Homo sapiens: one gene and its partner. The protein of the gene in region 2 interacts with the protein of the main gene of each other region in a pairwise test. Each region holds a gene or a part of one and is shown on either strand. Other genes may lie near its edges. The genes, in order: KAT6A and UBE2U.

What was found.
Region 1: the proteins of UBE2U (region 2) and KAT6A interact in a two-hybrid assay, tested with the Homo sapiens proteins (one large-scale study listed by BioGRID and IntAct).

Annotation. Positions count from the first base shown.
Region 1 is NC_000008.11:41,971,922-41,975,749, forward strand, and holds part of KAT6A (histone acetyltransferase KAT6A), read right to left. Parts: intron 2,902-3,828; coding exon 2,783-2,901; intron 1-2,782. UniProt on the Homo sapiens protein: Histone acetyltransferase that acetylates lysine residues in histone H3 and histone H4 (in vitro). Component of the MOZ/MORF complex which has a histone H3 acetyltransferase activity. May act as a transcriptional coactivator for RUNX1 and RUNX2.
Region 2 is NC_000001.11:64,210,032-64,213,859, forward strand, and holds part of UBE2U (ubiquitin-conjugating enzyme E2 U), read left to right. Parts: intron 1-710; coding exon 711-808; intron 809-3,828. UniProt on the Homo sapiens protein: Catalyzes the covalent attachment of ubiquitin to other proteins.

The DNA of each region.
Region 1 (3,828 bases), on a different chromosome or scaffold from region 2:
CTGTGGGCCTAAGCAAGTACAGGATAGAGCTACCATTTACTCTTGTTCACCACTAAAAGCCAGAATCTATGGCTACAACAGTAAGAGCCTAGAACATCTTGCTGTGGCCAGAAGTAAATAAAAATGATGATGATGTGTTAAAAGGACAGAGGAGCTTCTAGAAAGGAGTTCCCCTCTGCCTAAATTTGGAACAATTTAAGCATCAAAATAAATACTAATAGCAATGGATTATAACCATAAAATAATCTATGAGTTTAAACAAAATGAATAAACAAATAGGAAGAAGAAAAAGCTTCTCCTTACAATAGAATGCCAATTAATAAATGGCAAAGAAATGATAGAATTAGAAAATAATGTTTGGCCACCAACAAAGTAAATGATTCAGGCAAAAATCATCTCTGGATGCTAAATGTGGTAGATAAAAGTTTGATGAAAAACAGGTTATCTGCATTTCTGTCTCAAAGTATGTCCCCCCAAGATACTTAATTATAGGTAGAAAGCAATGTTAGAGAAGAAACATGGATACCACCTAAACCAGGTGGTCACTGTTAGCAGCACTTGTGATGAGAACTTGGATATTACATGCCTTCTGATGTGACACACTGAGGAGGACACAGCACACCTGTGGAATTTTCTAATCATGAAAAATAAAACAAGCTCAAAGTGATGACATTCTATAAATGACCTGTGCACTTCAAAACTGTCAAGGTCATGAAAGATAAAGACTGAGGAACTGTTCCCAATTGGAAGGAGACTAGAGAGACGTGACAACTAAATTAGATAATAGTACTTAATTTGTGTTAAATTCCTGATTTGATGATTGGACCATGGTCATGTATGAGAACATTTCTGTTTTTAGGAAATACACACAAAAAATTAGGAGTAAAGGGATATTAACACATTATGTCTGCAACTTACTCGGGAGGAGAAAAAAAAATTCTTTCAGTCAGGAAGAACATAACTACTGCCTCCTTTCAGTTCCCACTGAAGTCCATGTAGATTTCTACTAGAGTACCTATAATAACTCACTAGCATGAAAGGAAACAAGCTTTGAGGGCAACCTGCCCAAAGGAGAAGTTAGTAAATGACAGATCAAGACTTGAACCCAGATCCACCTGAATCAAAGCCAATATTTTGTTAAATCATAATACAGCAGAATGCTGAGTAAATGCGTGCTGAGTATTTGTACTGCTGTTTTATTTTTCCAAAAGTACTCACATAATGACCGACATCAACAGTCTATTCACCACCACTGGGTCTCTTAATATGAAGAGTTTTCCCTAGAACCCTCGGCATCAGCCTTAGAATTTTTTTTTTTTTTTGAGATGGAGTCTCACTCTGTTGCCCAGGCTGGAGTGGTGTGGCACGATCTCGGCTCACTGCAACCTCCACCTCCCGGATTCAAGTGATTCTTCTGCCTCAGCCTCCCGAGTAGCTGGGACCACAGGCGTGTGCCACCGGCTAATTTTTGTATTTTTAGTAGAGACGGGGTTTCACCATGCTGGCCAGGCTGGTCTCGAATTCCTGACCTCAAGTGATCCACCCGCCTCGGCCTCCCAATGTGCTGGGATTACAGGGGTGAGCCACCGTGCCCAGCCTAGAAATTCTTCTTTTCAAGATAAAAGAGAACTTGGCTTACATGGTACATTTGTTGGTGGCAAAGAAGGAAAAGACAAAAAATAAATGAACATAATCTGGAAGAGCCTTTATGATCTAGCCCCTGCACTTTTCCAACCTCACCTCCTGCCATTCTCCACACCCTATATTCTTTATCCTGAGCCATTTTAATTCCCACAATTAAGCATGTTTTCCCCTATCTTCAAGTCTATTCCACCTTCACTTCTGTTCCTTCTGATTATATAAGAACCAACTCCCTACATATCCCTTTAAGGGATATGTACAACTCCTACATATCCTTTAAGGCCCCTCAATGAATCCTCCTCTGACCTCCCCAGGCAGAAGTAGAAGCTGGCTTCCCTATTCTCCCAAAACATCAAGTATTCTATAATTGAACTTTTCATATTAATGACATTACTTATTCACAAATCTCTCCTATAGTTCAGGGAAAGAATTCAGTCATTCACTGGCATCTCCAGCATGTGGCACATAGACTCTGTCTATATATTTACGATCTTGCCATGTGTCACAAAGAATTGCAATTTTTTTTTTTTTGGAAGACAGGGTCTCACTCTGTCACCCAGGCTGGAGTACAGTGGCATGATCTCAGGTCACTGCAACCTCCATTTCCCCAGCTCAAGCAATTCTCCTGCCTCAGCCTCCTAAATAGCTGTGACTACAGGTGTGCACCAACATACCTGGCTAATTTTTCTATTTTTTTTTTGAGATGGGGTTTTGCCATTTTGCCCCAGCTGGTCTCAAACTCCCAGACTCAAGCAATCCACCCACCTTGGCAAAGTGCTAGGATTACAGGCATGAAATACTTCTTGAATTAATAAATATAGGTGTTTTATCACTCATGAGAAGCTTGTTTTTTGTTTGTTTTTGGTCAAATCCCAAATTCTTCTTCATACAGTAAGACAAAAAATAAACCAAGCTTATTTAATATTGATAGTCAAAGCCATGTGCTTATCTGCAAAACCAAAGCAGTTATCATGGGTTTGAAAGGAATATTATAAACAGCAGAACTACATATACACACAAACCACAACTATTCTGAGATTAGGCAAACTGCTGTTACTGCTTAACCCACAATGTAATTAATCTGCTGTTTCTCAGCCATGAACAAGTTGCTTGATTGTCTAACCTGAATATCCAACTTTACCTGCAGTGCTTGTTCTTGGATATCACGAAATAATTCCATATCTTTCTCAGTCATGATTTCCTGGCTCCCAAAAAGTCGCTCCTCATTTTCTTGTTTGCCATCCCAGCCATCCTGATTGTCTACATATAAAAAAAGAGCTCACATGTTAACTGTCCCCAGATTAATACATGAACTAGAAAAAATTTCAGGTCTTTATTTCAATTTGAAGAACTTAATATATAACGAAGAATATAGCATTAAACTGACTCTTAGAAGAATGCTACTCAATAAATAATATTTATGTATTAAATCTGCCTTATAGTGGAAATCCTGAATTGTCTTAAAGCTTCCTAAAAATATTATATAACTAAATTTAAACTTCATTAAAGATTACATTTTAATACACAGAAAGGCAGACAGAAAAATGATATAAGGAATATAAATTTCATTTTGAAATAGTATAAATTTGACACTTTTAGTATAGGTTTAATGCATCAACGTTCAAAAAAACCTCTTGAGTAGCTACCTTAACTGATGTCAGCAGTACTAACTCCCATCACATTCTGGGTGCCCTTTTAAAGTTAAAGCACAAACTTTAAAACACTGTCCTTTTAAAGCACAAACTCTATTTACCCAGATGATAATCATCTGGGTAAATATGAAAACGTATGATAATTATCTACTAAATGATGGAACTTCCTCAAGTTGGCAAAAAACTAGTGAAGAGAGTATTTGGGACTTATGAAGATCATTATCCTTTGCATTTGAAGATGACACTGCTGTTGGGCTCATTTGCTCTCTTTATAAGTATGGCTGAAAAGACCAATTGGTGACAGTTCTCAAGTCAACTGCACATATGGGCCATCTGTTATTAACTTAACACAAGAAGAAAAAAGTCAAGGACTCACTGTTGACAACATTCTCAAACTGGAAGAAAAAAGTACAATCTAAAGGTACTATGTGACTTTAATGCCCCCTAGTGCATGATGCATGCACCTCTCTAATACAGCATTCGGTACTTAAACTTTATAATTCATAAAGAAAATGACAGAGCCTATTAAAGCAAA
Region 2 (3,828 bases):
GCTGTTTTTTCACATCTGGGATTTAGAGATTTTTATGATTTAAAATAAATTTATATTTAAGATCTATTAATCTTGTCCTTTGAGGCTTTTGCAGTTGTCTTTCATCTTAGATGATCCTTTCCCAAAAGAAAATCAAATAGTCATTTTAAGTTTCTTCTAGTCATTCTACAGTTTTATTTTTCTTATTTAACTCTATTATTTTTTCAAACACTAAATTACTTAACTGTGTTAGGGCATATGCCAAGCTCCTGTACATCTTTCCAACTTAACATAACAGGACAACGCTGGAGGGAGGTTGTGCCCATCCTCAATGTGAAGATTCCATTTCTGGGACTAAGGCATTTACTGTTTGTCACCATTTCCAGTCTGGGGGAAGGGGGAAGAAAAGAAGGAAAGCCAGCTTCCTTTAAAAAAAGACTCAGAAATTGCACACTTATCCTTATGTCCCACAACAAAAACTTAGTCACAAGGCCACATCTTGCTAAAGGAGAGGATAGGAAAAACTGTAGGGGCACCTATGTATTCAGCTAAAACAACATGGTAATGGGTGGGAACCAGGGATGGGTATAGTGCTTCTCAGTACAGAGAGAAGAACTAGGAAAAAGGAAGAGTAAATGCAGATAATTTTTCTGGCTTATCATTTTGATGTTTGTAAGTTTTAAATAATAATTTATTATAAATGCAAATATTAATGTATTATTTTAATACAGTAGACCCACACACTGGTCAGCCCTGTATAGACTTTTTGGACAACCCTGAGAAGTGGAATACAAACTATACATTGAGCAGCATCTTACTTGCCCTACAGGTAAGAATGGATTTCATATAATCCTCTCTTTAATACTTTTAATTACCCTAATTATTCAAACTACAAGGATTAAAATATACAATGCATATTTAAGTGTTTAAAGAATTTGAGAAGTTTATTTAAATCCATACTTCTATATGAAGGCTACAAAGTGGAACTTACTTAAATTATAAAAACTATTATTTAAAGTGAAATTGATAGTTAAGGCCCCTCAAGACCAAAGAATGCATATCTTATAAAAGAATAAAATAATTATTTAGATGGTTTCAATTCTGAAAATATAACCTTAGGTTTTCTTTTGGTTCCTAACTTCACTTCCTGATGTTGAGCAAGCCTTTTAGATCTTTCTTCATTTATGGACCTTGCCTTCCTGAGAGAGGTGGATCGAATGACTACAACTTAAAATGTTCACTTTTGTTTTTTGTTTCTGACAGTGCTAGTTAGCTACTTTCTGTCCCAATAGTGTTCACATCAAACCCAGTGAACAATTTATACCAAGGATTTTCTCCTCTCCTCAGATGCCTGTTTCTCAGATGCCACCTTTACCCACTGGACCCATGGTCCTTAGAAGCATACCTCAGTGTTGTGCTATTTCTTTTCTTTTCTTTTTTTCTTTTTGAGACAGGATCTTGCTCTGTCACCCAGGCTAGAGTGCAACGGCACAATCCTGGCTCACTGCAGCCTCAACCTCCTGGGCTCAAGTGATCCTCCCACCTCAGCCCCTCAAGTAGCTGGGACCACCGGCATGCCCTACCATGGATGGCTAATTTTTTAAATTTTCTGTAGAGACGGGGTCTCACTATGTTGCTCAGGTTGGCCTCAAACTCCTGGGCTCAAGCAATCCTCCCACCTCAGCCTCCCAAAATGCTGGAATTACAGGCAAGAGCCACCACATCCACCCAGTGTTGTGTTATTTCTGGTCCTTAAAAATGCCTCCTTTCTCATCTAATGCTAAAATGAATTATTTCAGTGAACTTGCTTTGACCTCTTAGAGCTAGCTTAGCAATAATCTATCCATGACCTACTTATCACCAATAATATCTGAAGATAAATAATTACATTTTGATTATCTAGAATACTTGGAATATAAAATACTCTGGCATAATTGAGTTTTTAAATATAGAATTATAATATAAATTGCATTTCTTCTATTTCTTGTATTTGAAAATAAATAAAATAATACTTTCCTGGCTAGTCATCTTAGCATACTAAGTAAAATATAATCTTTAGGAAAGATTCAATGTTCAGTTCATTCATTCATTCTACAAATATGTATTGAGGATCTACTTGTGTGAGGTTGTGTTCTAGGAAGGAGACATTTGAGCAAAAAATTTAAGGGAGTGAGTGAGTGTGATATGCAGAAATCTGGGGTTAATCCTTTGGATTCCTTTAAACTGAGACATATTCTGATCTCATCCACCTAAACTAGAGTCTGCCCTAAGAATAGCAAAATGATCCCAAAATGTAATGAGTAAGGGCAAACCAGAATGAACTGGTGAAAATTTTGAATTGCAGAATAATTTGATAAAAGGAAAATGTGGGGCTCTGAGTTAGCTTGCTTGGCTTCACATCCTGGTTCTGCCACTTGATACCTTTGTATCTATCATTGGACAAATTTTTCCACTTCTCAATGTCTCAATTTCTTCATCAGTAAAATGGGGCTGTTGTTACCTCATGTAACCTGTGAGGAGGAAATTAATTAATGTGTGTAAAGAATTCGGAACTGTGCCTGGTCCAAGAAAATAACTCAATAGTTAATACAGGTCGAGTATTTCTTATCTGAAATGCTTAGGAATTGGAAATTTTTCCAATTTTTGAATATTTGCATTACATATACTTACCATTTGAGCATCCCAAATTTGAAAATTTGAAATCTGAAATACTCCAGTGAGCATTTCCTTTGCACATCATGTCGGTCCTCAAAAAGTTTTGAATTCTGGGGTATTTAGGATTTCAGATTTTCAGATTTAGGATGCTGAACCTCTAGTTAGTTAACATTATGATTGTTCTTACTATTAAAGAGTAATGCAAAGTGACACCAAAGTGTTGCCAAATATATCATGGAAAGCCAGTAGATAACACAATTTTGTCTTTTTATTTTTCGAAAACATTAATAAAACAAATATGCCCACATTACAAAAGATTTTTAAGATAATGGGAAGGAAAAGAAAATCACTGACAATTATAAAGAAAACCCTTAACTTTACTGTTACTAGGAAAGAGCTTTCTGCTCTTTTCTCCTGTTTTTCAGTTTAAAATCTTTCAGTGGATCCCACCTTCTCCACAGGTGTAAGCTCTAGTTCTGTTGCATATCTAATCCTCACACCTAGACTCTCCCTAACACACCAGGCAATCCTGCTCATACTTATATCTTCATGCTTTTCTGCACTCACATTGCTTGGGTCAATTCAGATAAAAAAAACATTCATAGAGTTCTAAAGTTACCTTAGAAATGGTCAGTCTCCAGTTCCCCTCTGCCTGGCAACTCATTTTCTCCTCTTCTCTTCCTCAGTCTGTCCAGCAAGCAGTTGTTCATGTTGTTGTAAGAGTTGGAACAAATGAATCGTCCTCTAGGATACCTTTTCTGATTTATTTTCCTAGGGAGAATTAATAGCTTTGGTTTTGGGGGAGCTTCCTTTGCTACACACCCAACAGTACCCTGAGCAGATTTCTGTTAGAACACTAATACTATAAAGCACACACTGCTTACTTATCTGTCTTCCCCTATTGGACTGCAAGCTCCCCAAAATCAGGAAACAGGTCTAATTCATCCTTGATTTCCTGGAGCATACCAAAGACAATGCTGACATTTGGTAGATATTAAATAAAATGAATGAATGAATGAACCTGAATTTTTACATTATTGCTATTATGGTATGTATATTGCCATGTGCTTAGCAACAAGGATACATTCTGAGAAATGAGTTGTTACACATTTCATCGTTGTTTGAAAATCATGGAGCGTACTTACACAAACCAAGATGGTATAGCTTAATACATACGAAGGCTATGTTATAGCC